Linked DNA regions of Homo sapiens: regions 2, 3, 4, 5 and 6 are each linked to region 1. The links come from fine-mapping of genetic effects on gene expression. A gene starts in region 1. Each other region holds a variant in brackets. All regions are shown on one strand. Distances are from middle to middle. Region 1 holds the start of FRG1 (FSHD region gene 1). Region 2 has its middle 43 kb from the start of FRG1. Region 3 overlaps FRG1 (FSHD region gene 1). Region 4 overlaps FRG1-DT (FRG1 divergent transcript). Region 5 has its middle 30 kb from the start of FRG1. Region 6 has its middle 12 kb from the start of FRG2.

Region 1 (5,075 bases):
CAAAAGCACACAGTATAGTACATTTATCACATGTATAAATGCTGTATCTAGTCATACAATTTTCCTTTTAAAAAAGAAATATTTTATTTTCAAAAAGCAAAGACTCTAGGAATCTTTTCTAGCTGCCAGTCATAAAAACATAAATTCCTGGTTAGTTTCCCAAATTTGCCTGACCATAAGAACCACTTGTGATACTTGTCAAACACATGTATGCTGAGTCCCATCCATGATCTCCTGAATCAGAATCACCAGGTGAGAGGCCTGGGAATACACATTTTAAACAAATGTCCACAGTGATTATGATTAGTAAAGCTTGAAAAACATTTCACTAGGATCTTTATGACTGAATAACCTCACAAACATAGGAAAGTTACTGGAAAAAAATATGAGCAGAATTTCAGAATTCTGCCTTTGCTGAAAGTGTTTGTTCCCTCCTCCTCTACTCATCAAGACCTGACTGCTTATGCAACTCCCCCAAACCATCAATGGGAAGAGCTGAAAATGATTTTAATGAAGAAGAAAAGCTGATGTTTAATTTCAAAACTGACGGTTTGAATAGAAGGGAGAGGCATGAATTTATCTTGATTCTAACAGAAAGCATTGTATTTGGGTCTACAAACGAAATTGGTTTCATTTTTATTTTTTGTAAGTTTTCGCCAAACTCTGTGCATATATAGAGGCTGGGCAAGAAAGAAAGAAATCCAGAAATACGGCATATGCCATCCCTTATTTATTTCCCCATGCGACCAGCCAACAGCTTCTTCACCTAGTCCCTGCTTCAAGCTGACTTTCAGTCTACTTCTCTATCGGAAATGGAGCTTCCCCAAAGACTGCCTCAATGTCAGTTACCCAGAGGCCTTTTTTCCATCTTGGGCTCCTAAACTTCTATGATATTAAATGATACTACCCTTTCTGGAAATTCTCCTTAGCTTTGATTTCTATAATTTAACTCTGTTTCATTCCTTCTTTTATAGCCTTTCTTTTCTCTATCCCTTTACTGTAGACATATTGTACGACTTTGTTCTTGACCTTCTGATCTCTCCACATTCATTCCTTCAGAGCATGTATCCATTTTCTTGGTGTCAGGCTTCCTGACTATCTGATTATTACCATCATATAACGATGTTGGTGATGAGCATAGCTAACATATCCTAGGCATTTTCCATGTAGGTTATAATAAGCACCCTATATAACTCGTACCATTTAATTCTTCAACCCTAAATGATACTATTACTAACCACATTGTATGAGACGAGGAAACAGATTTTCATCAAAACCCTGGAAAGCCAACGTGAGGAGCCCCTGTGTGTCTCCTTTGTTAATGACTCCGGGCATCATGGCATGTGGATTGCCATGGAATGGGGATTAGGAAGCGCAGCACTGTGAAAACACCAGAAAATACGTTGATAGCGGTAAGGACGCTCATCTCTGCACATTGTGACGGTTTTGTTTCTGAGTCAGGTTTGAGATGAGCCAATCCTGACTCCATGGTGCCACCAGGGATCACGAATTTAATAAGATCTTCGTGGATGCTTGGAACCCAACTGGTCTCGGTTTTCTACTTTAGGGAAAGAGCCACAGCTTGAGTGGGGTGGTTTTGGTGTCACATACGCGATTAATAACACCCACCGCTGCAGAGGAATCACCGTGGACTACTCCTCCTTTCATCCCATGCTCTTGCGATGGATCCCTCTCACCTGTTTACTGATTTCATTCAAATTCTTCAGCGACCACAGGACCCCGACTTGCCTTCTCTATCCTGGTTCCCTCACTCTGCTTTACAGGCCTGGCCTGCTCGCTGCTCCTCACACCAGCGCTGCACGGCTCCCTCCACGCCTCCGCCCTGTTTCCTCCATCAGACAGGACTAGCTTCCTCCATCTCTGTCGGGCAAATGCCTGCCCAGCCTTCAAGACCCTCCTCAGATGCCGCCTCCACGATTAGGCTTCTTTCAGACCCCTGAGCCTGTAACACGGGCTACCATAACTCTCCACCTCAGCCCACATTCCCACAGCACTCGCGACGTCCGCGACCCTCAACATGGCGCTTCATTCTCTTTTAGGGTATTTCCTGCTTGTTTCCTGCACACACAGTCGCGCGAGGCGCAGTCCTGAGTGACCCACGCACGAGTGGCCCGCGCTTCCAGCCGCGCCGCCGCAGGCCAGCGAGGGCAGCCTGAGCCGCTTCCCGCCCCGGCGAGGACCGTCGCCAGCCCGCTGCTCTAGCAGGAGGCGGTTCCACAGCGCACCCGGCAGCCCAGCCACCGTCAGCACCGCGCCTCGGGCGGGCTTTTCTCCCTTCCGGGAGGCGCGAATCCTCAGGGGCTCCTTGAGAGGGCGCCAGGGAGCAGCTGCGCGCGGATGCCTTTTGGCCCTCTGCGGCCGCCGTAGCTCCCCGGCAGAAACCCGGAAGTGGAACTCTGAGCCATTCAGCGTTTGGGTGAAGACGGAGGCGGGTTCTACAGAGACGTAGGCTGTCAGGGAGTGTTTATTTCGCGTCCGCTTCTGTTTCTCCGCGCCCCTGTGCTGCCCCGACTCACATACTCGTCCAGAACCGGCCTCAGCCTCTCCGCGCAGAAGTTTCCCGGAGCCATGGCCGAGTACTCCTACGTGAAGTCTACCAAGCTCGTGCTCAAGGGAACCAAGACGAAGAGGTGGGTCCTGCAGCTTGGGCGGGAGCCTCCTCCGTTCTTTTCGGACGCACTCCACCCCCGCAACTCCGGTGGAAGCCGTGGCGCGGAGAGCCGGCTTTGTGGCCTCCCAGGCTTCGCCCTGGCCCCTGTCCGGGCTGGACGGAGGCCGGGCCGCGGTTCCCGGCGTCTGTGCAGAGAGGGGCAGCCTCCCGCGCGGACGACCCTGGAAACAGGATAGACGGGCAGGTGACCCGTGACCCCGTACCCACGAGTTTGGGTCCCCTGAGGCATCTCTCCAGGCCTCTGCCTGGGGGGTCTGCATTAGTCTGATCTCGTAGTTCATGATAATTTCCTTTATTAGGGATTATTATTTTCTCCATTGTCTCTTTTCTTTCTAGAAAACTTATTAATTTTTTCTAATCTAATATGTACAGTGAAACCAGGATGAATCACACAGTGGTTGAGGTGTATATGGGCTTTAGGGATATGGGCTCGAACCTGCACTCTTGTCATTTACTAGTTTTGTAATTTGTGGCAAATTGGTTAATATGTCTGAACTTCCATTTACTCATTAAGAGATCAAATATCTGAACCTCCGTTTACACATTTATACTTTCAGACGTTTTTTATACTTTTAGAAGACTGTGAGGATTAAATGAGAGAACATATATGCAGAAAATAAATTGAGCCAAATGTGAGGAGGAGGTCGTAATGGTAATTTATTAGCTTTTTAGGAAAAAATACCTGTGCACTCATATCCCCGCTTCTTTTTTAACTGGCAGATTTGCCCGAGGTACATACAAATGTCGAGTATTTCCTCCTGGTCTCCGTGATAAACAGAGGTTTTGATATTTTTAGGCGAGATAGAAAGTATCAAGGAGTGAGTTGAAGCCACTGGCCTTGAGAACCCTCTCGAGGAGTCTGGCCTCATGAAGATGCCAGAATAAATGGCAGGTTTATCCTGAATGAATGTGAGATTTTTACTCTGTGAATTTCCTGGGAGGAGAGGAGAGTTATCTTCTGAAAACTTTATAATGAAAATGCAGACACGGGTGTCTTAAGATCATCGTAATAATCATAATTAATGCTCATATAGCACTGTCAATGTGCCAAGAAATTGTTGTAGGCACTTTGCACATTAACTTTTTTTCAAATCACTCTTGGTTTTTTATTTTTTTATTGAGATATAATTCATAATTATAAAATTCACCCTTTTGTACAGTCAGGGGTTTTTAGTATATATTCAAGAGGTTCACCACTGTCTAGTTGCTCAGCATTTTCATCATCTCAGAAGGAAATCTCCCCCTACCCATTAAAGCAGTCACATCCCATCCTCCCCCTCTCCTAGTCCTTGGCAACCACTAATCCGCTCTCTATGTGAAATCGCCTATTCTGAATATTTCCTAAGAAATCATGCAACATGTGGCCTTTTGTATCTGGCTCCTTTCACTTATAACATTATTGAGGTTCATCATTGTTGTAGCGCCTGTTCCTTTTTATGGCTGCATAGTATTCCATTGTATGGATGTATCATTTTGTTCATCCATTCATCAACTGATGAACATTTGGGTTGTTTCCCCTTTTTGGCTATTGTGACTAATGCTAGTGTGAATATTCTTATGTAAGTATTTTTGTGGGTGTATGTTTTCATTTCCCTTGGGTATACATACTTAGGAGTAAAATTGCTGGGTCATGTGGTAACTTTAACTTTTTGAGGAACCCCAAACTGTTTCCTGTAGATGCTGCACCATTTTACATTTCCACCAGGAATGTGTGAAGGTACATATTACCTCTTAATCCTCACAATAGCCTTAAGAGTTAGGTTAAGTTACTATCCTAATTTTTTAAGTGGGGAAACTGACTCAGAGAGATTCAGTACCTTTTCCAAAAATCACGGAGCTAAGAAGTGAAAGAATCAGGATTTAAAATCTGGCAGTGTGGCTCTACAATCTGCTTTGAACTCTAACGTAATATGTGCAAAGCCTGAAGCAACTTCTCAGTACTGTATTTAAGAGGGCATATCAATGTAAGTCTTCCTAAATCAATAATTTATAAATGAAACAGCTTAAAAGACTTTCAAGTTTCAATCTTACAATATTTATCGTACAAATCAATATACCTAAACTCGTCTATATAAATTATGTCCTGTAGTAAGAAGAAAAAGAGCAAAGATAAGAAAAGAAAAAGAGAAGAAGATGAAGAAACCCAGCTTGATATTGTTGGTGAGTCAGTTTTCAGTGCTCTATTCTGAAAAAAGTTAATGTTTCTTGAGATCTCCTTGAAAGTGTTTTCCTAGTTAGAAATTTATGATGTATTCATATTTGTCTTAAAGTGCTTAAATATTACCTACAGTTATAAATTCCATTTATTCTTTAACACAGTAGATGCTACTGATGCCTTTACTTCATTATCAGGAGAGAAAAATTATAACTCTCTGACTTAGTA
Region 2 (5,075 bases), 43 kb after region 1:
GGGAGGTTGGGGGAGGTTGGGGGAGGTTGGGGAAGTGTGGGGGAGGTTGGGGGAGTGTGGGGGAGGTTGGGGGAGTGTGGGGAACCTCTCCCACCTCCCAGCTGCTTCCAGGAGCCACTTCTTTCGAGATGAGACACTCTGCTGCCTGTCTGTTCCCATTTGGCTGCAATAGACCATTGACAACATTCAGAGAACAAGAAGGGGCCTCACCTGTTTTCCCTGACACGTCGGAGGCAGATGGACATTCCCAGGGGACCTGGGGTAGAACCTGTTCATCTGCCCACCCCCAGGCTGTGCTGGCTTCATCTTATCTGTGTGATGGTGGCGGTGGGAATTACCAAGGGGTCATCACACAGACCATGGACAAGTTCTACAAGAGCCAGGGAGAAGAGCCCTGTCCGTGCTTGCTGCCCAGCACCCAGCTCACACACACACCTCTTATTTGACAGCTTCCCCAAAGCGGGCTTTGCAGTCCAGGCTCCCCGAGAAGCTTGGGGAGGAGACTCTGCCAGTCTGAAGGGCCTATCCCTAAAAAGGTGCCACCCTCACCAGGCTCATCCTGGCAATCTTGGATTATCTTTGCTCTGAGGTTTTGGAGTGGGGGACAGGGAGACAGCAGACACTGCACATCACCCATCTTTCCAGAGAGCATCAGCCCTCCAGACTGGGGCAGGTCAGACCTCCACTTGGGCGTTTTTCTCACTGGTTGCCAGTTGGGGGAAGCAGCATTTGTGAGCACCTGCCTGTCTTCCCAGGTCCTGTTCAGAAACCCCATCTGTGCCTTTGGAGAGACTGCCCTGAGCACACAGGCCCAGCAACCACCATATACGACCCCCAGGACCTAATCCCCCTCTACATAGGGTTCAGTGCATGTTAGCAGACACTGGGCTCGATTCCTGCCTAGTCCCTGCCAGATACCCCATGCCCACCTCGTGAAGAGAATGAGGCCACACAAACACACCCAGACCGTCTTGGTGATGGAGTGCCTGGGGTCCCACTTGCCCACCCTTCATTGCTGGTTCAGAGCCAGCTGTCTGACCACATTCCTACCCCGAGATGGGACTTTGGGGACATTGTCCACCAGGGTCGCTGAGCCCTTTTAAAGTTCCAGACACATGGCCAACTGGTCCCCTAAAAGTTTGGTACATGGGATAAGCCAAGGCTTTTCTTCAGGAACAGGCTTTCCACCACGTCGCTGCCCAAGGCCCAGGGCATCCCCAAGTTCATGTGGCGCCTGCCTGCCATGTCCACAGCCCATGCCGAGCCCTCCTAGAGCCACTGGAATGCTTGTTCCTGGGCATGTGATGAACCCAGACAGCTTCCGCCTTGCAGGACAACTGTGCACATCTGGCAGCAGTAGCCAGAGGGCCCATAGAAGTTGGAGGTGAAACCAGATGCTGTGAGAATACTTTATTAGGCAAAACCGCATACTATAAAAATGCTTTAAAATGCAGCAGGAGATGTGAAGACACAAATGAACGAGCGCATAGTGACACATGGCTGTCAGAACACAGTGAAGGATCCACACTGCTTCCCCCCTTTACCTAGAAAAGGAGAGTTCTAGGCCACCTCCTCCTCCTCATACTCCTCCTCCCTCGGCCGTGGCATCCTGATATTGCTGATATTCAGACACCAAGTCGTTCATGTTGCTCTCGGCCTCAGTGAATTCCATCTCATCCATGCCCTCGCCCGTGTACCAGTGGAGGAAGGCCTTGCGCCTGAACGTTGCTGTAAACTGCTCTGAGACCCGCTTGAGTTCCTGGACGGCTGTGTTGTTCCCAGTGAAGGTGACTGACATTTTTAGCCCCCAGGGTGGGATGTCACAGACGGCTGTTTTTACGTTGTTGGGGAACCAGTCAGCAAAGTAGCTGCTGTTCTTATCTTGAATGTTGAACATCTGTTCATCCACCTCCCTCATGGGCATGCGACCCTGGAAAATGGCAGCCGCCGTTAGGTAGCGGCCGTGACGGGGGTCACGGGCAGCCATCATGTTCTTAGCATCAAACATCTGCTGGGTGAGCTCAGCCACAGTCAAGGCCCGGTACTGCTGGCTGCCCCGGCTGGTCAGTGGGGCAAAGCCGGGCATGAAGAAATGCAGCCGGGGAAACGGGACCATGTTCATGGCCAGCTTCCGCAGGTCAGCATTCAGCTGGTCGGGGAAGCACAGGCACGTGGTGACCCCACTCATGGTAGCAGACACCAGGTGGTTCAGGTCACCATAGGTGGGTGTGGGCAGTTTTAGGGTCCTGGAACATATGTCATATAGCGCTTCGTTATCTATGCAGAAGGTCTCATCTGCGTTTTCTATGAGCTGGTGGACTGAGAGGGTGGCGTTGTAGGGCTCCACCACGGTGTCTGACACCTTGGGCAAGAGCAGGATGCTCAATGTGTTTATAATCCTGTCTGGGTACTCCTCCCAGATCTTACTAATGAGAAGGGTACCCATCCCAGACCCAGTCCCCCCACCCAGGGAGTGGGTCAGCTGGAAACCCTGCAGGCAGTCACAGCTCTCAGCCTCCTTTCTGACAACGTCCATCACTGACTCCGTCAGCTCCGCGCCTTCGGTGTAGCGTCCCTTGGCCCAGTTGTTTCCGGCCCCACACTGACCTGTAAGACAGCACAGCCGGTCACTCGACGGCCAGGTATACGGTCATCAGTGGTCACCACCATAATGCAGAAAGGGCCAAGTGTCACGTGTGAGGTGAGAGCACCATTCGCCCTGCAGGTGGAGCAGATGAAACCCCCTCCCCCGGAGTTACAGGACAGCAGCTTCCCCTCTCTTAGGAATTAAGTCAGGAGTCAAACCTGAGAGGGGCTAACCTCACTGCAGGTGGAACAAATGAAAACCCCTCCCCCGGAGTTACAGGACAGCAGCTTCCCCCGTTAGGAATTAAGACAGGAGTCAAACCTGAGACGGGCTCACAGAACTCGCTGCAGGTGGAACAAATGAAACCCCCTCCCCAGGAGTTACAGGACAGCAGCTTCCCCTGTTAGGAATTAAGTCAGGAGTCGAACCTGAGACGGGTTCACAGACCTCGCTGCAGGTGGCC[CA/C]TTCTCAGGGAAGGCAGTAGCCACGGCCCCAGCTCAGGTCCTTGCAGGGAGTTTACATCAGTAGCTCCTCACCTTGAGGAGACACGCGGGCCTTCCTCCCGAAGCCCGTTTAGGAGGCAGATGGAGCGACTCGACTCGGAGGACAGGAGGGTGTTCAGGGGCCCTGGCGCCACAGTTCCCACAGGATGACCTTGGAGCGTTCCTGGATTTCGAGCTGCCCTGGCTAAGGAGCCGCACCCCAGTCCTCGCCCGCAGCTCACGGGAAATGAAGTTGTCTGGCCTGAAGACCTGCCCGAAGGGCCCCGAGCGCACAGAGTCCATGGTGCCCGGCTCCAGATCCACGAGCACAGCGCGGGACACGTACCTGCCACCTGCGTGGGGCGGGAGGGCATGAGCGAGGGGAGGGCCGCGTTCCCAGGAGGGCGGTGGGGGAAGGACGGGGGTCGCACCGCTGGCCTCGTGGTGGTGCACGTTGATGCGCTCCAGCTGCAGGTGGCTGTCCCCGTGGTAGGTGCCAGCGGAGTCGATGGCATGTTCATCAGAGATCACCTCCCAGAACTGCGGAGACGGGAGGGGCCAGACAGGCCGGGGCTGAGTCACGGAGGCGCCCCAGCCGCTCTCCCACCCCCATCCGCACCCCCATCCCCAGGCCGCCCTGTCCCTGGGGTCCACCCCCGCCGCCTCGCCAGCCACCCGGTTCCACCGTCCCCGGCAGGGAGCCCAGGGGCCGCAATGCAGGGGCACCGCCCCCGCCGCTGCCAACATCTTCCCCGGCCACCCGGCAGGCCCGGGCTGGGCCCTCAGAGCCCCGGCTGCCAACCTTGGCGCCGATCTGGTTCCCGCACTGCCCGGTCTGCGTGAGCACAAGCTCCCTCGTGGCCAAGGCAGGATTAGGGCGGCAGGAGAAGCGCGAGAAGGAGGAGCAGACGCACAGCGACCCAGCCCGGCCTCCGCCAACGCTTAAACAGCCCCGCGCCCACCTCCCTCAGCCTAGGATTGGGCTCCCAGAATAAGCAACAGCTTTACTTCCACACAGGTGCACCCACCTGTGACTCCCCTGGCGTTGAACGTCTGTTGGAGAACTCAGGTGTCCTTGCGTGGTCCCTTCCACGTTGGGGAAAGCTGCTCAGCTGGAGAACTTCCTCCCACGTCTTTAGTAAGACTAAATCCCTAGCTGAGCTGAAACTGAATTTTCCTCCCATGTGGGAGGGGAAGACGCTTGTTTCCATATGCACGGAGTGCCTTTGCACCTGTCCTAGATTGATGACATATTTTTGTAATTGATGAATCTTTTCATCTATTAGGAGATCTGTCGTTAGGAAAGGCCTTCCACATGTTAACAGGACTTAATTATACGTTTTACTTTGGAGCAGTTCAAATCTGCAGTAAGCTATGGGTGTTAGAGATAGTCAGGCCTCTGATTTAGCTAGAGTCTTCTTTAGGATTAGCCCTTTCACCTTTCCAGAGGACTGCGGTCTCCACACAGAGTGAAGGTAATATTGGATTCTTAAAGCTGAGGATAGGTGTTGGGTTACGCCTGCTGTGAAAGATGGGCCATTGTCACTTTGCAGGCTTTTAGATTACCCAAACTGAGGAGTTATTTCTTCTGGTAAACATTTTTCAGATGGGGTGGGGAATGCCTCGATCTAACCAGTGAAGGTATCAGTAAGCATTAGCAAATATTTGAATCTCTTGCAGAAAGTCATTGGGGTACATTAGAGTTGCCAGTTCTCACCTGGATAGGTTCCTTAATTTTGGACAGGTTTAACTGGAGGAGAAAATTGCTGGCCGTTTGGGTCATGTCAGGCACAGAGCTCACAGTGCTGAGTCACCTGTTTTAGTGTCTTGAAAAGATTTACCCCTATAAACAAGTGAGACATTAACAGAAACAAAGAATCCCTTCTAGGGTGAAAAGAATCATGAAAGTGCTGAGTTATACTCTTGTGATTGGTACTTGGCATTAGTAATTTATTACCATCATTCAGCCAGCCCGAGGGGCCCTGGACTGAAATGCAATCCCTGGC
Region 3 (5,075 bases), 23 kb after region 1:
TTCCAAGACCACAAACTTAAAATAAGTAAAGAAGACAGTAAAATTCTTAAAAAGGCTCGGAAAGATGGATTTTTGCATGAGACGCTTCTGGACAGGTAGCTATTTATTTACTTATTTCCACTATTTTCAGTAGCCAATAGAAATGGCATGTAGAAAACCTACATTCTCTTAAATTACTGTAGTTTTTCACATTTTTGTCTTTATTTCTAATTTATGAGTGTGGCAATATTACCTAAAGAGGACATCGTAAGTTTGGGAAAAGACTGTCATGAAAGAATATCTAAAAATTATAACCGATTCTAAGTATATACTTGAAGAAATTCAGGTTTGACTGTATCTACTTCATAAATTTATCATCTTTTTATAACTATTAGAACCAGAGTTAGAAGCAGTTTGACTAATATAAAAATTATGTGGATTCTGTTAGAGTAGTTCAGGTTCCTTAAAATAAGAATAGATCAACTAAAAAACTAAGTATAAAAGCTAAACAAGTGAAATTGAAGCAGTTTTATTATAAGATTTGGAAGAGTGCAGGATGTTTATCATACCACATTATTAATATTTATTACTCTTCCTAGGTAGATAAGTAATGTCCTAGATTTATGACATAGAAAAACAGAGACGTTTAGCTGTGAGTGTACAAGTATAAATCAATTAAGTGCCAGATTTTGATAATCACCAGCCGCTCATTCAAGTCGTATGTTGCAAAGTTACTCTTACCCTTTTTTTTACATTACTTGATAAAGGCAATGTTTAATTACGTATTTCCTGTTAACTAGCTGGTAGTGTTCATACCTAAAGTCAGTAAATAATGTTAAGAATTTTTTCCAGCTGAGCAAATGAATATGTATCTCATTGTAAGAAATCAAGAAGAGGATATAAAATATAATCAGGATGTGGACTCTAAAACGGAATAAGCTCTATGTCCTGTAACTTTTATCACTTGTAATAATACAGCATTCTCACCCTGTTAAATGGAAATTTAGAGCAGCCTTAAATTCCGGAATAATTAAAATTGCTATTTGGATTGAAAAAGCCCTTAGGCAACATTTATTGAATATTAGGAAATAACTTTTATAAGATTAGAATCCATTTTTTATAGAAACCAAATTTAAAAGTATACATATTTTAATAAAAGTGTTGTGGTAATAACCAAAATTGAACACACAGTTTTAAAGCTTTTTATATTTAGTAGCAGTTGAATATATATGGCATGTTTTACATAGATTAATTTTATTTTTCTTTGTTTAAACAGGAGAGCCAAATTGAAAGCCGACAGATACTGCAAGTGACTGGGATTTTTGTTTCTGCCTTATCTTTCTGTGTTTTTTTCTGAATAAAATATTCAGAGGAAATGCTTTTACAGAGTTCTTGAGTTGTGAAATTATTGTTTAGCTAGTTTAACCAGGATTAAACAAGTTTAATCAGGATTCTTCATGGATGTACTTTTTAGCTAACTACAGTTTTTCACATGGAAATGAAACTTACAGTTCACACTTAATGTACCACAGAATTTTTTTCTGGATTTCCTGTCCTGAAGCATGAAGTGTACTAGAAACCAATTCTTCCTGCGCTACTTGTGGAATCTGTCTTACTGGATCATAATCTTACTTTACTTTATATAATAGATGCTTAATCAGTGCCTTTAATAGAAGTTAGAAACTCCCAATCCAATCAACAAGGCTTTGGTTCTACCTTCTAAGTACTACCCAGATCACAGACAATCCAAATATCAGAACTAGGGGGCTGGGCAGAGAGGACAAATCATCTATTAGGGAGTGGGACAGAAAGCAGAAACATTACAAAGGAGCAAGTAGGCTCAGAACAGAGGGGAGAGTAGTACTGGGGAAACTCCCTGCTGAGGACAGGTTAGCCACAGTGGATATGTATGTGATGCCTTTGTCCTTGTGGGCTGGAATGGAAGCTGGTAAGGGAATAGGAACAGCTCCAGTCTACAGCTCCCAGCGTGAGCGATGCAGAAGACGTGTGATTTCTTCATTTCCAACTGAGGTACCAGGTTCATCTCACTGGGGAGTGTCAGGCAGTGGGTGCAGGACAGTGGGTACAGTGCACCGAGCATGAGCCAAAGCAGGGCGAGGCATCACCTTACCCAGGAAGAACAAGGGGTCAGGGAATTCCCTTTCCTAGTCAAAGAAAGGGGTGACAGACGGCACCTGGAAAATTGGGCCACTCCCACCCTAATACTGCGCTTTTCCAACACTCTTAGCAAACGGCACACCAGGAGATTATATCC[T/C]GCGCCCGGCTTGGAGGGTCCTGCGCCCAAGGAGCCTCGCTCATTGCTAGCACAGCAGTCTGAGATCAAACTGCAAGGCGGCAGCGAGGCTGGGAGAGGGGCACCTGCCATTGCCGAGGCTTGAGTAGGTAAAGTGGCTGGGAAGCTCAAACTGGGTGGAGCCCACTGCAGCGCAAGGAGGCCTGCCTGCCTCTGTAGACTCCACCTCTAGGGGCAGGGCATAGCCAAACAAAAGGCAGCAGAAAACTCTGCAGACTTAAATGTCCCTGTCTGACAGCTTTGAATAGAGTAGTGGTTCTCCCAGCAAGCAGCTGGAGATCTGAGAACAGACAGACTGCCTCCTCAAGTGGGTCCCTGACCCCCGAGTAGCCTAACTGGGAGGCATCCCCCAGTAGGGGAAGACTGACACCTCACATGGCCGGGTACTCCTCTGAGACAAAACTTTCAGAGGAACAATCAGGCAGCAACATTTGCTGTTCACCAATATCTGTTGTTCTGCAGCCTCCACTGCTGATACCTGGGCAAACGGTCTGGAGTGGACCTCCAGTAAACTCCAACAGACCTGCAGCTGAGGGTCCTGACTGTTAGAAGGAAAACTAACAGAAAGGACATTCACACCAAAACTCCATCTGTACATCACCATCATCAAAGACCAAAGGTAGATAAAACCACAAAGATGGGGAAAAAACAGAGCAGAAAAACTGGAAACTAAAAATCAGAGCACCTCTCCTCCTCCAAAGGAACACAGCTCCTCACCAGCAACGGAACAAAGCTGGACGGAGAATCATTGACGAGTTGAGAGAAGGCAGCTTCAGACAAACTACTCCGAGCTACAGGAGGAAATTCAAACCAATGGCAAAGAAGTTAAAAGCTTTGAAAAAAAATTAGACAAATGGATAACTAGAATAACCAATGCAGAGAAGTCCTTAAAGGACCTGATGGAGCTGAAAACCACGGCATGAGAACTACGTGATGAATGCACAAGCCTCAGTAGCCGATTTGATCAACTGGAAGAAAGGGTATCAGTGATGGAAGATCAAATGAATGAAATGAAGCGAGAAGTTTAGAGAAAAAAGAATAAAAAGAAACGAACAAAGCCTCCAAGAAATACGGGACTATGTGAAAAGACCAAATCTATGTCTGATTGGTGTACCTTAAAGTGATGGGGAGAATGAAACCAAGTTGGAAAACACTCTGCAGGATATTATCCAGGAGAACTTCCCCAATCTAGCAAGGCAGGCCAATATTTAAATTCAGGAAATACAGAGAATGCCACAAAGATACTCCTTGAGAAGAGCAACTCCAAGACACATAATTATCAGATTCACCAAAGTTGAAGGAAAAAATGTTAAGGGCAGCCAGAGAGAAAGGTTGGGTTACCCACAAAGGGAAGCCCATCAGACGAACAGCTGATCTCTCCGCAGAAACTCTACAAGCCAGAAGAGAGTGGGGGCCAATATTCAACATTCTTAAAAGAATTTTCAACCCAGAATTTCATATCTAGCCAAACTAAGCTTCATAAGTGAAAGAGAAATAAAATCTACAGACAAGCAAATGCTGAGAGATTTTGTCACCAGCAGGCCTGCCCTAACAGAGCTCCTGAAGGAAGCACTAAACATGGAAAGGAACAACCTGTACAAGCCACTGCAAAAACATGCCAAATTGTAAAGAACATCGAGGCTAGGAAGAAACTGCATCAACTAATGAGCAAAATAACCAGCTAATATCATAATGACAGGATCAAATTCACACATAACAATATTAACCTTAAATGTAAATGGGCTAAATGCTCCAATTAAAAGAGAGAGACTGGCAAATTGGATAGAGTCAAGACCCATCAGTGTGCTGTACTCAGGAAACCCATCTCACATGCAGAGACACACATAGGCTCAAAATAAAGGGATGGAGGAAGATCTACCAAGCAAATGGAAAAAAAAAGGCAGGGGTTGCAATCCTAGTATCTGATAAAACAGACTTTAAACCAACAAAGATCAAAAGAGACAAGGCCATTACATAATGGTAAAGGGATCAATTCAACAAGAAGAACTAACTATCCTAAATATATATGCACCCAATACAGGAGCACCCAGATTCATAAAGCAAGTCCTTAGAGACCTACAAAGAGACTTAGACTCCCACACAATAATAATGGGAGACTTTAACACCCCACTGTCAACATTAGACAGATCAACAAGACAGAAAGTTCACAAGGATATCCAGGAATTGAACCCAGCTCTGCACCAAGCAGATCTAGTAGACATCTACAGATCTCTCCACCCCAAATCAACAGAATATACATTCTTTTCAGCACCACACCACACCTCTTCCAAAATTGACCACATAGTTGGAAGTAAAGCACTCCTTAGCAAATGTAAAAGAACGGAAATTATAACAAACTGTCTCTCAGACCACAGTACAATCAAACTAGAACTCAGGATTAAGAAACTCACTCAAAACTGCTCAACTACATGGAAACTGAACAACCTGCTCCTGAATGACTACTGGGTACATAACGAAATGAAGGCAGAAATAAAGATGTTCTTTGAAACCAACGAGAACAAAGACACAACATACCAGAATCTCTGAGACACATTCAAAGCAGTGTGTAGAGGGAAATTTATAGCACTAAATGCCCACAAGAGAAAGCAGGAAAGATCTAAAATTGACACCCTAACATCACAATTAAAAGAACTAGAGAAGAGCAAACACATACAAAAGCTAGCAGAAGGCAAGAAATAACTAAGATCAGAGCAGAACTGAAGGAAATAGACACAAAAAACCCTTCAAAAACTCAATGAATCCAGGAGCTGGTTTTTTGAAA
Region 4 (5,075 bases), 24 kb before region 1:
AAATCTAGATATGAGTAAGTCCAAGACTTTGCCTTTGTGACAGTCAAAATAATGACCCCATAAAGATGTTCTAGTCCCTGGAATCTGTGACCATATTACTTTACATGGGGCAAAATGGATTCTGTAGATGTGATTAATCCTTGAGTTAGGGGGATTATCCTTGATTATCTTGGGGGCCAATCTAATTGCATGTGTCTATAAAATCAGAGAATCTTTCCTAGCTGCAGTCAGAAGGTGACATGACCACAGAATATAAAATCAGAGAATCTTTCCTAGCTGCAGTCAGAAGGTGACATGACCACAGAACAATGGTCACAGATATCCCACATTACTGGCTTTGAAGATAGAGGGATGGTCCTATGATCCAAGGAATGGGGACAGCATCTACAAGTTGGAAAAGGAAATGGATTCTCTCTAGAGCCTCCAGAAAGCAATACAGCCCTGACAATACCTTGAGTTAAGCCCAGTAAGACCACGGTCAGAGGTTTGCCCTACAGAACTATAGGGTCGTAAGTCTTTGATTTAAGCCACAAAGTTGTGGTAATTTGTTATGGCAGCAATAGAAAATTGATTTTAAGGAGTTTATTGTTTGGAAGATAGGCAGACCAGAAAATCCAAATTATAATATAATTCGATTAAAACCTATGGAGATTTGGGCTAGGTGTTTTAGAAAAGAACTGAGTATTAACAAGACTAACAGAAGAAATTGTTCTAAAATTTACACACTAAGTACATCACATTTTTCTAATGATCACATTGATAGAGCAACTTAGAATCCATGCTTTCAACAAACCAACAGGCTTATATACATATATATATAATTTTATATATATATAATTTTATATATATATAATTTTATATATATAATATATAATATATGGAATAGCCCCACGGGCATGGGCAGCCCTGGGCCACAGGGCAGCACTGTACTAGCAGCCTACACCCCACCTTACCTGCCTACCCTGAGCTGACTTGTCTGCTAAATGCTAAATAAACCTGTCAACCTGTCGGGTTTAACTCAGAAGGGCCTGGATGCAACAAGCCTGAGGGCTGTGACTGGGGTAAGAGAGAGCACAGACGGAGCTCCTCCTCCTTCCACCACTGCCCACCAGCTGAAAACCACCAACTGAAGTTTGCTAAGATTCTCAGCCTACACCTTGTTCCCAACAAAACTCATGCAATACTTTGGCCCCCACTACAATCTCTTGAATAAAATATTCTACGGATCTGCTTTTTGAGCTGCAAGTTATCTTACTAAATTCCAAGAAGCTCATGTAAGAGAAAACCACCACATAATATAAGATTTTCAATGTGATCATCATTGCTACTTTTAACTAGAAAATATCCAGTAAATGTATTGTGAACTGCTTTGTGACTATGGTGATTTATTTAGTCTTTCTGATCCTTGGTTTGATTATCTCAAATATATAAGTATCACCAATTTTATAAAGTTGCTCTAAAAATTAAATGAGAGAAAAATAATTCTCCTTCTCCACATACTGAACACTTACAAAATTATAGGCATTGTGTCCAGGTTTTTACATACTTACCTGATGGAAGTCTCCTAACAACCCTCTCTTTTAAATTACAAGCATTTTGCCACGATTTTTACACATGTATGTTATGGAGGCCTCGCAACAATCACATCTTTTATAGGTGAGCAAACTGAGGCTCAGACGAGTTAAAAACACATTCACCATCAAATCATAATGAGGGACGGAACTGGGATTCAAATCCAGTTCTCTCTGATGCCAAAAATGGTGCAATTTAACAAGGACCAAGTTACACCCAGAACATGGAGGGATCATAACATGTGGATTCCCTTTTCTGCCCCCTCATGTGGGAATTTCAATAGCTTTCACTGCCTCAGAGCAATCCTAAACTCCCTCCCAGGTGCCTTGCAATGGCCCCCTTATTCGTGGGGGTGATTAGGAATCTGCATTTTTGGACCACGAGCATCCATAAACAGTTGTGTTGATCAAGAAATAAAATTTTCTAGGCCATAGGTTACTGTGAATTGTCTAGCTTCTCTGCAAAAAATAAAGGGGCTATTCCATGTAAAAAAATCACAGGATCCACTGAATTTGTGCAGAAAAACTTAGAACTATACCGCAGGAGGATCTTACTGACAGCTGTGCCTGAAGACCAGCCCAACCACACAAAGCAATAGCACCTCCAATGGCCAGGTGTGGTGGTTCTTGCCTGTCATCCCAACAGTGTGGGAGGCCAAGGTGGGTGAATCACTTAAGGCCAGGGGTTTGAGACCAGCTTGGGCAACACAGTGAGACCTTGTCCCTACAAAAAAATCATTTTTTATTATTAGAATCAAGAAGAGTACCTCTAACCCCCTGTCATTGCTTTAGGGTAGAGAGCTCTGGTCTAGAACTCAAGATATGAAATTGTGAATCCCAGTGTAGCTACTTAAGCTTAAATTCAAGAGCTGCCAGACATTTCCTCTACAGCAACGAAATCTGTAGCATCCATTTTGTATTTTGAAAACTTAGTTTTTGGCCAGCCTCTGGGAACAAAAGGACCCAGAATTGGGCATTTGGGTAGGGAGGGAAAAAGAAACCGGCTGGATGCAAAAGGGGAAGACGAAGGGGTGGGGACGCCAGGCAGAGCCAGTCCTCATGCTTGGGGCCTGGACCTAGGAAAGGAACTAGGTGAAGAAGGGAGGAGCCCCAGGCTGTGGATGTCTCTGGGGGAACCTTGGTTCAGCAATGGCCAGAGGAGGTCCTGAGGCCAAGCGGTATCTGTCGCCTCCTTACCTTTGGGTGTCTTCTGGTCGCCAATGTGCTGCAGGTCATGGCTCCGGAATCAAATTGGGCTCAAACGGGGCAAGCTCCAACACAGTGGAGCCTGGCGCTACTCCCACCTCCACCTTGCGGATCTCAGAGCTGCAGGATGGCTCTGCCCACCGCACCCTGAGCTGGCCCCGCTTGGGGCTGGCATTGGGGGACAGTGTGTTCTGGGCGTCTCTGCTCCTCTCTGCTGGTGCCTGTGCCTCTGCTGGCCGCCCACTCATAGATGTCAGAGCCACAGGACGGCCCCGCAGAATCCCTGCGC[T/C]GACCCTGCCGGGGGCTGGCTTTGGTGCACATGCAACTCGTCATCGTGGTCCCCATGGGGCACCTCTGCTCTTCTCGAGGCAGCTTGGGCCTTCGCTTGCCCCCACGTCTGCAGAGCTGAGCACCTGCCACCTCTCCCCAGGAAAGGCAACCAAATGCCACCAACTTAAGGCACCCACTGAAGGCACTAACTGAAGGCCACCAACGGAAGGCCGGTTGCCCTGCCAGCCAGATCGCGTACTGCTTAGGAAGAACCAATCAGGCCTTGAGTTCCCTCCACGTGCTGCCCTTCCATTTGTGATGTGGAAGTCCAGGCACTGGCTCACAAAACCGCGCCCCCCAGTGATGCCGCCCCACCTTTCATTTATTGGTAGCTGGTAGCAACTTTCAGGTTTCCTCACTGTGAATTATGAATATGAATTATGATTAAATTACTGTATGCTAATGTACCTCATGCACTATCTGACAGTCAAAGTCCCCTCTTCCCCCATGGCCTCTGAGTTTTTTGGAAACTAGAAAGAAGACACATTTCTGCAGGTGCTTTCAGAAAAAAACATTGCCACGACCTAATGTTACTCTGTGACGTCAAGTCATATTTCATATATCATACATATTCATATTTATATTCATAATTCAAAATGCACATATTCAATCAAATTAACAGGACTAACAAAGGAAATTTTCTAAAACTTATACACTAAGTACATTATATTTTTCTAATGATCACTTTAATAGAGCAACTTAGAATCTATGGTTTGAACAAATGAAGAGGCTTATGCAAGAGAAAACCACCACCTAACACAAGATTTTCAATGTGATCATCATTGCTACTTTTCACTAGCAATTGTCCAGTCAATATATTGTGAACTGCTTTGTGACTATGGTGATTTATTTAAACTTACTGATCCTTTATCTCAAAAATATGAATAATACCAATTTTATAAACTTGTTCTAAAAATTAAATGAGAGAAAAATAATCCTCCTTCTCTATATATTGAAAACCTACAAAATTAATAACATTGTGTCCAGATTTTTACACACTTACCTTATTGAAGCCTCATCACAACCCCGTCTATTAAATTATAGGCATTATTCCCAGATTTTTATACACTTACCTTATGCAAGCCTCGTAACAATCCCATCTTTTATAGATGAGCAAACTGAGGCTCAGACGAGTTAAAAACACATTGACCATCAAATCATAGTGAGTGATGGAACTGGGATTCAAATCCAGTTCTCTCTGACACCAAAGGTGGTGCAATGTAATGAAGACCAAGTTATATCCAGCACATGGAGGGACCAAAACATGTGAATTCCCTTTCTCTACCCTCTTACGTGTGAATTTCAATGGCTTTCACTGCCTCAGAACCATCCCAAACTCCCTCCCAGGTTGCCTTGCAGTGGATCCTTTCTTCTTGGGGATGATTAGGAATCCGCATTTTTGGACCACAGGCATCTATAAAGAGTTGTGTTGATCAAGAAATAAAATTGTCTAGGCCATAAGTTACTGTGAATTGTCTAGCTTCTCTGCAATAAATAAAGGGGCTATTCTCTTTATTTTTTATTATTCCACTATTCACAATAGCCTAGAATCAACCTAAGTGTCCAAGAAGACTCGGTTTAACCCTGGGGATTACTAATGTTTTCATTGTGGTCAATGTGGTAGATTATATTACCATTCTCCCATTATCTGGTCTTCCTACTGCAGTGGCCCTATCTCCTAGAAGATTATACATTTCTGTCCTATTGAAGTAAGGGTCAGATTTAGACATGTGACCGGTTTGGCCAGTGAAATGTAGGTAGAAGTGGCATGTGTAACTTGTTAGCAGAAAATTTCCTTTTTCAAGGATCTGGGAGCCATCCCTTTCAAATGTAATCCTCCAGAAAGATAATACCTTATTTCCCAGTCTCTATGAGAGAGTAAGAGCCTAATCTTGCTCCAAGTTGTAAAAATTACCTTATATTATAAAGATAAAAGAAAGTTTATTTTTCCTTTGAGAAAAGACAGTT
Region 5 (5,075 bases), 30 kb after region 1:
GCAAAAATCACAAGCATTCTTATACACCAATAATAGACTAACAGAGAGCCAAATCATGAGTGAACTCCCATTCACAACTGCTTCAAAGAGAATAAAATACCTAGGACTCCAACTTACAAGGGACATGAAGGACCTCTTTAAGGAGAAATACAAACCACTGCTCAATGAAATAAAAGAGGATACAAACAAATGGAAGAACATTCCATGCTCATTGGTAGGAAGAATCAATACCGTGAAAATGGCCATACTGCCCAAGGTAATTTATAGATTCAATGCCATCCCCATCAAGCTACCAATGACTTTCTGCACAGAAATAGAAAAAAATACTTTAAAGTTCATATGGAATCAAAAAAGAGCCTGCATTGCCAAGTCAATCCTAAGCCAAAAGAACAAAGCTGGAGGCATCATGCTACCTGACTTCGAACTATACTACAAGGCTACAGTAACCAAAACAGCATGGTACTGGTACCAAAACAGAGATATAGAACAATGGAACAGAATAGAGCCCTCAGAAATAATGCCACATGTCTACAACCATCTGATCTTTGACAAACCTGACAAAAACAAGCAATGGGGAAAGGATTCCTTATTTAACAAATGGTGCTGGGAAAACTGGCCAGACATATGTAGAAAGCTGAAACTGGATCCCTTCCTTACACCTTATACAAAAATTAATTCAAGATGGATTAAAGACTTAAATGTTAGACCTAAAACCATAAAAACCCTAGAAGAAAACCTAGGCAATACCATTCAGGACATAGGCATAGGCAAGGACTTCATGTCTAAAACACCAAAAGCAATGGCAACAAAAGCCAAGATTGACAAATGGGATCTAATTAAACTAAAGAGCTTCTGCACAGCAAAAGAAACTACCATCAGAGTGAACAGGCAACCTACAGAATGGGAGAAAATTTTTGCAATCTACTCATCTGACAAAGGGCTAATATCCCGAATCTACAATGAACTCAAATTTACAAGAAAAAAAACAAACAATCCCATCAAAAAGTGGGCAAAGGATATGAACAGACACTTCTCAAAAGAAGACATTTATGCAGCCAACAGACACATGAAAAAATGCTCATCATCACTGGCCATCAGAGAAATGCAAATCAAAACCACAATGAGATACCATCTCACACCAGTTAGAATGGTGATCATTAAAAAGTCAGGAAACAACAGGTGCTGGAGAGGATGTGGAGAAATAGGAACACTTTTACACTGTTGGTGGGACTGTAAACTAGTTCAACCATTGTGGAAGTCCGTGTGGTGGTTCCTCAGGGATCTAGAACTAGAAATACCATTTGACCCAGCCATCCCATTACTGGGTATATACCCAAAGGATTATAAAACATGCTGCTATAAAGACACATGCACACATATGTTTATTGTGGCACTATTCACAATAGCAAAGACTTGGAACCAACCCAAATGTCTAACAATGATTGACTGGATTGAGAAAATGTGGCACATATACACCATGGAATACTATGCAGCCACGAAAAATGATGAGTTCATGTCCTTTGTAGGGACATGGATGAAGCTGGAAACCATCATTCTCAGCCAACTATTGCAAGGACAAAAAACCAAACACAGCATGTTCTCACTCATTGGTGGGAATTGAACAATGAGAACACTTGGACACAGGAAGGGGAACATCACACACCAGGGCCTGCTGTGGGGTCAGGGGAGGGGGGAGAGATAGCGATATGAGATATAACTAATGTTAAATGAAGAGTTAATGTGTGCAGCACACCAACATGGCACATGTATACGTATGTAACAAACCTGCCCGTTGTGCACATGTACCCTAAAACTTAAAGTACAATAAAGAAAAAAAAAATTCCATAGTGGCGATATAGAACAGTTTGTTTAACCATTCAGTCATTGGAGGATATCTGGGTTGTTTCTAGTTCTAGGCTATTACAAATAAAGGTGCTCTGAACATTTCTGTTAAAAAAAAAAAAAAGTTAAGACGCTACGTGTTGCTTAGGTCTGCTTTGTTGAAGCCTGTCTCTTTCAGAGTTCCTAAACACAATATTCCCATGGCATCTAATCCTAGTGAGTGCTCCAAATCCAGGCTGTGTATCAGATGCCACGGGAAATTCTGCCTCAGGACTGAGTTTGGTTCAAGCATCTGGATGTTGTCAAAAGTCCACGTTGTGTGCTGGCCTAATCTGAAAGACCCTAACTAGTTCTAGCCTTTAAATGCCTTCTGTCATCAAATCTAGAGTTACATGGCATTTGTACAAGCTAGGTAGCTGAGGCACGGAATCAGCCCTATAAAGGAGCTTTTGGTGCTTTTGTTGTAGGTCTAGCTCCAACTTGGCACTCCAGTTCCCATAGCTAGACTTTCTCTCATCGTGTGTTCTGATCCTTGGATTAGGAACAAAGTAACTACTCTGATACAAAGCAGTGGTTTCGGTTCCCAACTAGTGACTATTTTGCCTCCCAGGGGACATTTTTGGTTTTCACAACTGGGATACGGTGTTAGAGGGTAGAGGCTAGGGATGCTGCGAAGCATGTGGCAGAATCCTCTTCC[G/T]CCCCGAATGCTAATAGTGCCAACGTTGTGGAGGCTTCCCACCCAAGGGCTTGGTCTATTCCTTGCTTTTGCCAGCTCCCTAAACCTTAAACACATTTCAAATTTATATGCATAAGCATCTCCTAGGGACCTGCCCGTTTCCAATATCGACTACTGAGACCCATCCGTAGAGATGCAGGCTTAGGAGGTCTAGGATTGGGCTGAAAATTTGCATTTTAACAAGTACTCCAGGTCATTCTGAAGCAAGTGATACAAACCACACACTGAGGAACACGCCTTCAAGAGACTGAATCTTGCTTCCCAACACTAGCTTGCTATCTGAGACCATCTGCCTGCTGCTGGCTTTCCTGGCACAAACATTCTGCATGTAGGCACAGTGTGCTCCTGGACTCCATGTCACCTCGTTCACCCTCATGTTCCCTCGGTTCCTGTCCCCAGTCCAGCAAGCAGAACTGATTACAGATCTTAACAGAAGATACAGATTGAAAATAACTTGCCTGTTCCCGTGGACTTTATCCACTAGTCAAGGAGGACAAGTGGACAAGGGGAGAGGGTAGGTGGGGGCTCCTTCCCTGTTCCTCCCATTCCACTTTATACAAACCCCAGCTAGACCACTGGGAGAGCAACAGAGGTTAAGAATGACTGCATCTAAATATTTAATTTGGCCCACTCTTCTTCTGTCTTGAACACAAGGGTATCATGAGTTTTGTTTAAAGCACTACTGAAACCAAGATAAATTCTGGCTTAGCATGCCCCTGACAGATCAATCTAGTAATCTTATCAAAAAGATTGAGAAATCGGATGGTTGCTGTGTCTGGGTAGAAAGAAGTAGACATGGGAGACTTTTCATTTTGTTCTGCACTAAGAAAAATTCTTCTGCCTTGGGATCCTGTTGATCTGTGACCTTACCCCCAACCCCTTGCTCTCTGAAACATGTGCTGTGTCCACTCAGGGTTGAATGGATTAAGGGCGGTGCAAGATGTGCTTTGTTAAACAGATGCTTGAAGGCAGCATGCTCGTTAAGAGTCATCACCACTCCCTACTCTCAAGTACCCAGGGACGCAAACACTGCGGAAGGCCGCAGGGTCCTCTGCCTAGGAAAACCAGAGACCTTTGTTCACTTGTTTATCTGCTGACCTTCCCTCCACTATTGTCCTGTGACCCGGCCAAATCCCCCTCTGCGAGAAACACCCAAGAATGATCAATAAAAAAAAAAAAAAAACCAAGATTACCTAAAAGCACTAACCAAAGGAAAACTCCCTCACCTCAACCCGTGACTGCTCACATTTTTCAGATTGAATAATTTCAATTGTATTTTAAGGTTGACTCTTTACCACCTCCAAGCTGCTCCTGAACACAACTATTATTTTTTAATTTTGAAAAATTTTTCACTTCTAGAATTTCCACTTGAGGCTTTGTTATTACTGTAGTTTCTTCTTCTCTGCTGTGATTTTCTATCCATTTATTATAAGAGTTTTTGGGGTTTTGATTTTAGTAAGAATTATAATAACTACTTTAAAAAATCCATACTAATTCCAACATCTCGGTCGTCTCGAGGTCAGTCTCGATTGATTGCCTTTTTCTTTGAATATGTTTCTTGGTATGTTTGATATAATGGGATTGAATCCTGAAGATTGTAAAAACTGGATATTTTTTGTTCCTCTGAAAATTGATAATTTTTTGTATTTTTTTTTCTATTGTATACTTTACATTTTCCTCCAAGGGTTTTAACATTTCTAGTTCTCAAAACATTTACATTTATGTTAAAAATTATACAAAGTAGCTTGGTACAGTGGCTCCCATCTGTAATCCCAGCACTTTGAGAGGCCAAGGCAGGAGGGTCACTCGAGTCCAGGACTTGGAAACCAGCCTAGACAACAGGACAAGACCTTGTCTCCACAAAAAATTATTAGGGTGATACAAAAAGTAATTGCAGGTTTTGCCATTACTTTCAATGGCAAAACCCACAATTCCTCTTGCACCAACCTGATAAAAAATAAGCTGGGTATGGTGGTGGTATGTGCCGGTGGTCTCAGCTATTTGGGAAGTGAAGGCAGAGGTGGGAGGATTGCTTGAGCCCAGGAGTTCCAGACCACCCTGAGACCCTGTCTCTACGGGGAAAAAAAAAAAAAAAAAAAAAAATTAGCTGGGCCCACGTACCTGTGGTACTAGCTACTTGGGAGGCAAAGGCAGAGGTGCCAGAATCACTTGAGCCCAGAAGCTCAAGGCTGCAGGGCACTGTGATTGTGCCACTGCACTCCAGCCTAAGTGATGGAGCATGACCCTGACTCCAGATAATAATAATAATTACAAAAAGGAAAGACCTAGAACACCAGGTTAAAGTATTCTAAAATTTAGCTGACTTACTCTGCTCTCTATAAAACAGGGTTGCCACAGAAAATATAGCATGCCCAGTTAATTTTAAATTTCAGATAAACAAATACTTTTTTCAGTGTAAGTATACCCCATGCAATATTTGGGATATGCTTATACTAAAACTTATTCTTTGTTTATCTGAAATTGAAATTTAACTGGG
Region 6 (5,075 bases), 74 kb after region 1:
TTATGAAGCTGCCCAGGGCCAGTAGGGAGCCCATTGCCCTGAAAACGGCAAGTCCCAGGCCAGGCAGCATTCATCGCAAGTTGACAAGAGGTTTTGGGCCTTAAGGGAACATTGGTGGTAGCCTGGCAGTACTCATTGTGGCCTGAGGTGGTGGTGGCTACTCTGCCTTTAGGAAAGGAAGGGAGGAATGGGAAGGACTATGTCTTGTGGTTTGAGTGTCAGGTCAGCTGCAATGCAATAGAATGTCAGGTGGACTTCTAAAACTTTTGACTCTACTCCCTGACTTCTGAATGGCACTTCTCGACCCAGCCAGGGACTGAGGGCACTCACTGCCCTAAAGGAAAGAACACAGGCCTGGCTGGCTTTGCCACCTGCTAATTGTAGAGACCAAAGGCCTTGAGTGAACATAGGCAGTCATCAGAAAGTGCATGCAGCAGGACTTGAGCAAGACCCAGTGCTGTGCTAGCTTCAGGTCTGATCCAGGGCAGTCATAGTGGTGGTGGCCAGGGGTGCTTGTGTCTTTCTTCTCCCAGCTTTAGGTGGCTTAGAACAGAGAGAAAGACTCTGTATCTTTGAGAGAAAATAATGGTAGAGAACAAGAGTCTCTGGCTAGTAATCTAGAAAATTCTCCTGGATCTTGTTGAAGGCTGTCAAGGTGGTACTTCTCTGAGTCTGGAAGAATTACAGCATTATTGGGTACAAGGTACCCATAAAGCAGATATGGCTTAGATCACAACACCCAAGTCTTTTAAAATATGTGAAAAGTCTTCCCAAGAAAGACAGCTACAAATAAGCCCAGACAGTGAAGACTACAATAAATACTCACCTTTTCTCTTTTTTAATTTTATTTTTTAAACCTCTCATATGGTGCTGCATGCCCAAGAATTTAATGTCCAGACACTGAATAACATCTACTAGCATCAACACCATCCAGGAAAACATGACCTCACCAAGTGAACTAAATAAGGCACCGGGGACAAATCCTGGAGAAAAAGAGATATGTGACCTTTCAGACAGAGAATTCAACATAGCTGTATTAAAAAAAAACTGAAAGAAATTTAAGATAACAAAATAAAGAAATTCCAAATTTTGTCAGCTAAACTCAACAAAGAGATTGAAAAATTTACAACAAATTAAGCAGAAATTCTGGAGCTGAAAAATGCAATTGGCATGCTGAAGAATGCATTAGAGCCATTTAATAGCAGAATGGATCAAGCAGAAGAAATAGTGAGCTTGAAGACAGGCTATTTGAAAATACGTAGTCAGAAGAGACAAAAGAAAAAGAATAAAAACAACAAATCATGCCTACAGGATCTAGAAAAATAGCCTCACAAAGACAGATCTAAGAGTTATTGGTTTTAAAGAAGATGTAGAGAAAGAGGCAGGGGTAGAAAAATTTATTCAAAGGGATAATAACAGAAAACTTTCCAAACCTAGAGAAAGATATCCATATCCAACTACAAAAATGTTATAGGACATTAAGCAGATTTAACCCAAAAAAAGACTACTTCAAAGCATTCAATAGATCTTCCAAAAGTCAAAGATAAAGAAAAGTTCTAAAGGAAGAAAGAGAAGAGAAACAAAGAACATAACAGTGAGCTCCAACACCTCTGGCAGCAGACTTTACGGTGGAAACCCTACCGGCCAGGAGAGAGAAGCAATAAATATTTAAAGTACTAAAGGAAAAAAAACCTTTTACCTTAGAATAGCATATACAGTGAAAATATTCTTCAAATAAAAAGAAGAAATACTGACTTTTCCAGACAAAAGCTGAAGTATTTTATGAATACCATGTCTGTCCTAAAGGAATGCTAAAGAGAGTACTTCAATCAGGAAGAAAAGGACATTAATGAGCAATAAATGATCACCTAAAGGTAAAAAAAATCCTCAGTGCTAATAGGATACAAAACAAAACAGAATATTATAACGCTGTAGCTGTGGGATGTGCAAACTACTCTTATTCAAAGTAGGAATACTAAATAATATCC[A/T]ATCAAAAGTAATAGCTACAACATTTCCAGACATAGCACAATAAAATATAAATAGAAACAACAAAAAGTTAAAAAGTGAAGGGATGAGCACACCCGTCCTGAGCCGGCCGATGTGGTGGAGCTCGGAGCTCGGGAGCCGGGGACGCCCTGGAGCGTGGGCGGAAGGGAGGCCGCCCCGAGAGCCGGAAGCCTGGGCAGGGCACGGAGGCCTAGGACGCCCCCCAGCAACAGCAGGGCGGCGCCACATTGGTCCTGCGCGAGGCCTGGCCGCCGGCGACGGCGGGACGCTCTGGGAGGCCGGCGGTGCTCGGGCGTAGAGGGAGACAGCTGCCCGGGGGCACGGACGAGCGGCTCTGGGGGTCCCGGATCCGAGCCCCGCTGCCCCGGGGTGGCGGTGACGCCTGGAGCCGGGCGGACGTGGCTGGGCCGGGCTGTCGGGGCGGGCAGGCGCCGCTGCCGGTGTCTAGGCCACACCACCCTGAGCGCGCCCCAGCTCCTCTGAGCTCGTGAAGCTAAGCAGGGTCCGGCCTGGTTAGTACTTGGATGGATTCCGCCTGGGAATAGCGGGTACCGTAGGCTTTTGGCTTCCCGCTCCCTCCCTCTTTCCCCGTTTTGTCTCCGTGCTTCCCAACCGCCCCCTCCCTCCACCCTGTCCGCCCCTGCGCCCCAGCCGAAGCCCAGGACCTCCCCCTGAAGATCCGCCACTGCAGCACCGCCAGGCAGCAGCATCCCACCTTTTCCGACTCGCCGCAGCCCCACCAGGAGCCGGGCTCCAACCCAGGCGGACTGGACCGACCCCGAGGGCGCAGGCGCGGGTTCCCTGAGGTCCCGGGTGTCTTTCACGCTCCCCGGAAGCCCAGGCAATTCATTCATCCAGCGCCGCTGCGACGGTCCAAACCGGGGGAAGGGGCGGGCAGGGGCAGCGGGTCCCACAGACGCCAGCCGAGACCTCCGCTCCGGAACCCGTGGGCTGCTTTACCCGGGGGAAGGACATTGCCCTCGCCAGCCGTGAGGAAATCCGTCCCTGTGCACTTTGCCACCGACTTCGTGTAAATTCCAGTCCCGAGGACACGAGAGAGACCCAGGCCTGGCCCCGTGGACAGGCTCAGAGCCAGGGCTCTCGCCAGACGGATGGGCGCATCTACAAATCTGGGGGGCCACCGCATCGAGAAGACAGAAAGAAGCAAACAAAGGAAGGACCCTATGAAACGCACCCCCAAAGCAAACAACCAATCCAAGAAAAAACACGTCTCAGGGCTCCGTTGGTTTTCCCGCATGGGGGGCCCTGACCCCCTGTTCTAGCCCGGCCTAAGCACCCTCCACCCCACCCCGGCCTGCTCAAAGGGGGCCTGTCTACCTGAGCAGAGCCTCCCTCTCCAAGGCTCTGTCGCTCTCGCTCTGCAACTCCCTCAGCCTCTCCCTTTCTCTACTTCCCCTTCCACCTCGCGCTCTTCTGTCGCGCTCTCTCTTTCCCTCTCTCTCTCTCTCTCCTCCCCCACTCTCTGTCTCTCTCTCTCTCTATCGCTGTCTCTCTCTCTCCCTCTGGTTCTATCTCTCCATTCCTCTCTCCCTTCCTCTCCTTCTGTAGCAGGAGGAGCCGCAGACAAAACCCCTCAGACACCGAGTTGTAGAAGGAAGGGCTTTATTCAGCTGGGATCATCCGCAGACTCATGTCTCCAAAAACCGAGCTCCCCGACTGAGTAATTCCTGTCCCTCTTAAGGGCTTACAACTCTAAGGGGGTCTGCGTGAGAGGGTCGTGATCCATTGAGGAAGCAGAGGGTACTGACTGGGGGCCGCATGCAGCGGTAATTAGATCAGAACAAAACAGGACAGGGATTTTCACAGTGCTTTTCGATACAATGTCTGTAATCTATAGACAACATAACCGAGTAGGTCAGGGGTATATCTTTAACTACCAGGCCCAGGGTGTGACACCGGGCTGTCTGCCTATGGATTTCATTTCTGCCTTTTAGTTTTTACTAAAAGCGGTGCGCCCATGTGTGTCTGTTTGGGAATGGGTTTGCTCGTGATTGTGGTGGGGTGTGTCTGGATGTCCGTCAGTAACTTTGTCCCGGGATCAGGCTGCCTACTCTATCGCCAGCGCATGGGTGTCACAGTTGCTGTGTTAGTCTCAGTACGCAGAAATTGGGCATAAGACAATATGAGGGGTGGTCTCCTCCCTTACTTCAAGCTATCTTTGTCTGTGTCTGTGTCTTTGTGTGTCCGTGTGTGTGTGCCCGTGTGTGTCTCCGTGTGTGTCCGTGTGTGTGTGACCGCGCGCGTGCTCCCGTGTGTATCTGTGTGCGTGTCGGGGTGGGTTTGCTCGTGGTGGTGGGGTGTGTCTGGGTGGCCCATCAGCCCCTCTCCCCCGGGATCAGGCTGCGGGGGCTCTAGTGCCAGCGCGGGGCAAAGCAGGGCCTTGGCCAACGGGGCGAGTCCTCGTTGGGACAAGCGACAATGGTGTGGGCGTTGTGAGAAAAAGGGCCCTCAGGGCTGGGCCGGCTGTTTGCCCCTGGACAGCCCTGACGGCTCTGGGTGTGTGGGGCAAGAGGGGGCCTTGCAGGAGGGGCGGCGAGGGATCCAAAACAATTTTTCTGCGGCAAGACGAAGGACCGGAGGGGATCCCAGGACAGTTGGCCCTGGGCCCTGACGCCTCGGAGCACACCCCGTCCTGAGCCGGCCAGATGTGTTGGAAGCTTGGGAGCTCCCAAGCCGGGGAAGGCCTGGAGCGTCTGCGAAAAGGGAGGCCACCTGGTGTGCCTGGAGCCTGGGCAGGGGACTGAGGTCTCTGGCTCTCCCGCGCTGCAGCAGGGCGGTGCCACGGCGCGTTCTCTGGCCGCAGGCGACGGGGGTGGCTCTGGGAGGCCGGCGGAAGGCGCAGCGCGGCGGCCGGCGGTGCTGGGACCTTGATGGCGAGAGCAGCCCGGCCGCGGGGGAGCGGTTCTGGGGCCCCGGATCTGAGCCCCGCGGCCCAGGGGTGGCGGTGACGCCAGGAGTCGAGCAGCCGCCACTGCCGGCCTTTACGGCCACACCACCCTGAACGCACGGGATCTCGACTGACCTTGAAAGCTAAGCAGAGTCGGGCC

Evidence for each region. PIP is the estimated chance that this variant, and not a neighbour inherited with it, causes the effect. A credible set is the group of variants that fine-mapping cannot tell apart.
Region 2: its variant is the best candidate, but not a certain one, in a credible set for the expression of FRG1 in whole blood (INTERVAL, PIP 0.63).
Region 3: its variant is the best candidate, but not a certain one, in a credible set for the expression of FRG1 in whole blood (TOPMed, PIP 0.88).
Region 4: its variant is the best candidate, but not a certain one, in a credible set for the expression of FRG1 in neutrophils (BLUEPRINT, PIP 0.55).
Region 5: its variant is the best candidate, but not a certain one, in a credible set for the expression of FRG1 in whole blood (TOPMed, PIP 0.76).
Region 6: its variant is the best candidate, but not a certain one, in a credible set for the expression of FRG1 in visceral fat (GTEx, PIP 0.89).

What each region holds. Positions count from the first base shown.
Region 1 is chr4:189,938,421-189,943,495 of GRCh38, forward strand. It overlaps FRG1 (FSHD region gene 1), which reads left to right and starts at 2,452. Exons shown (of 9, transcript NM_004477.3): 1 at 2,452-2,651; 2 at 4,782-4,852. The coding sequence starts at 2,590. It overlaps FRG1-DT (FRG1 divergent transcript), which reads right to left and starts at 2,313. Exons shown (of 4, transcript NR_149039.1): 1 at 1,239-2,313. RefSeq lists an enhancer at 2,758-3,257.
Region 2 is chr4:189,980,944-189,986,018 of GRCh38, forward strand. It overlaps the pseudogene TUBB7P. Among named protein-coding and RNA genes, the nearest start is that of FRG1, 43 kb to the left of the region's middle. The variant CA/C (reference allele first, on the strand shown) is at 3,051.
Region 3 is chr4:189,961,838-189,966,912 of GRCh38, forward strand. It overlaps FRG1 (FSHD region gene 1), which reads left to right. Exons shown (of 9, transcript NM_004477.3): 8 at 1-95; 9 at 1,256-1,355. The coding sequence ends at 1,292. Among named protein-coding and RNA genes, the nearest start is that of FRG1, 24 kb to the left of the region's middle. The variant T/C (reference allele first, on the strand shown) is at 2,255.
Region 4 is chr4:189,914,324-189,919,398 of GRCh38, forward strand. The region is part of intron 2 of FRG1-DT (FRG1 divergent transcript); the gene reads right to left. Among named protein-coding and RNA genes, the nearest start is that of FRG1-DT, 24 kb to the right of the region's middle. The variant T/C (reference allele first, on the strand shown) is at 3,067.
Region 5 is chr4:189,968,009-189,973,083 of GRCh38, forward strand. No RefSeq gene overlaps it. Among named protein-coding and RNA genes, the nearest start is that of FRG1, 30 kb to the left of the region's middle. The variant G/T (reference allele first, on the strand shown) is at 2,540.
Region 6 is chr4:190,012,689-190,017,763 of GRCh38, forward strand. It overlaps the pseudogene RNA5SP174 and the pseudogene RNA5SP175. Among named protein-coding and RNA genes, the nearest start is that of FRG2, 12 kb to the right of the region's middle. RefSeq lists a silencer at 3,899-4,096. The variant A/T (reference allele first, on the strand shown) is at 1,989.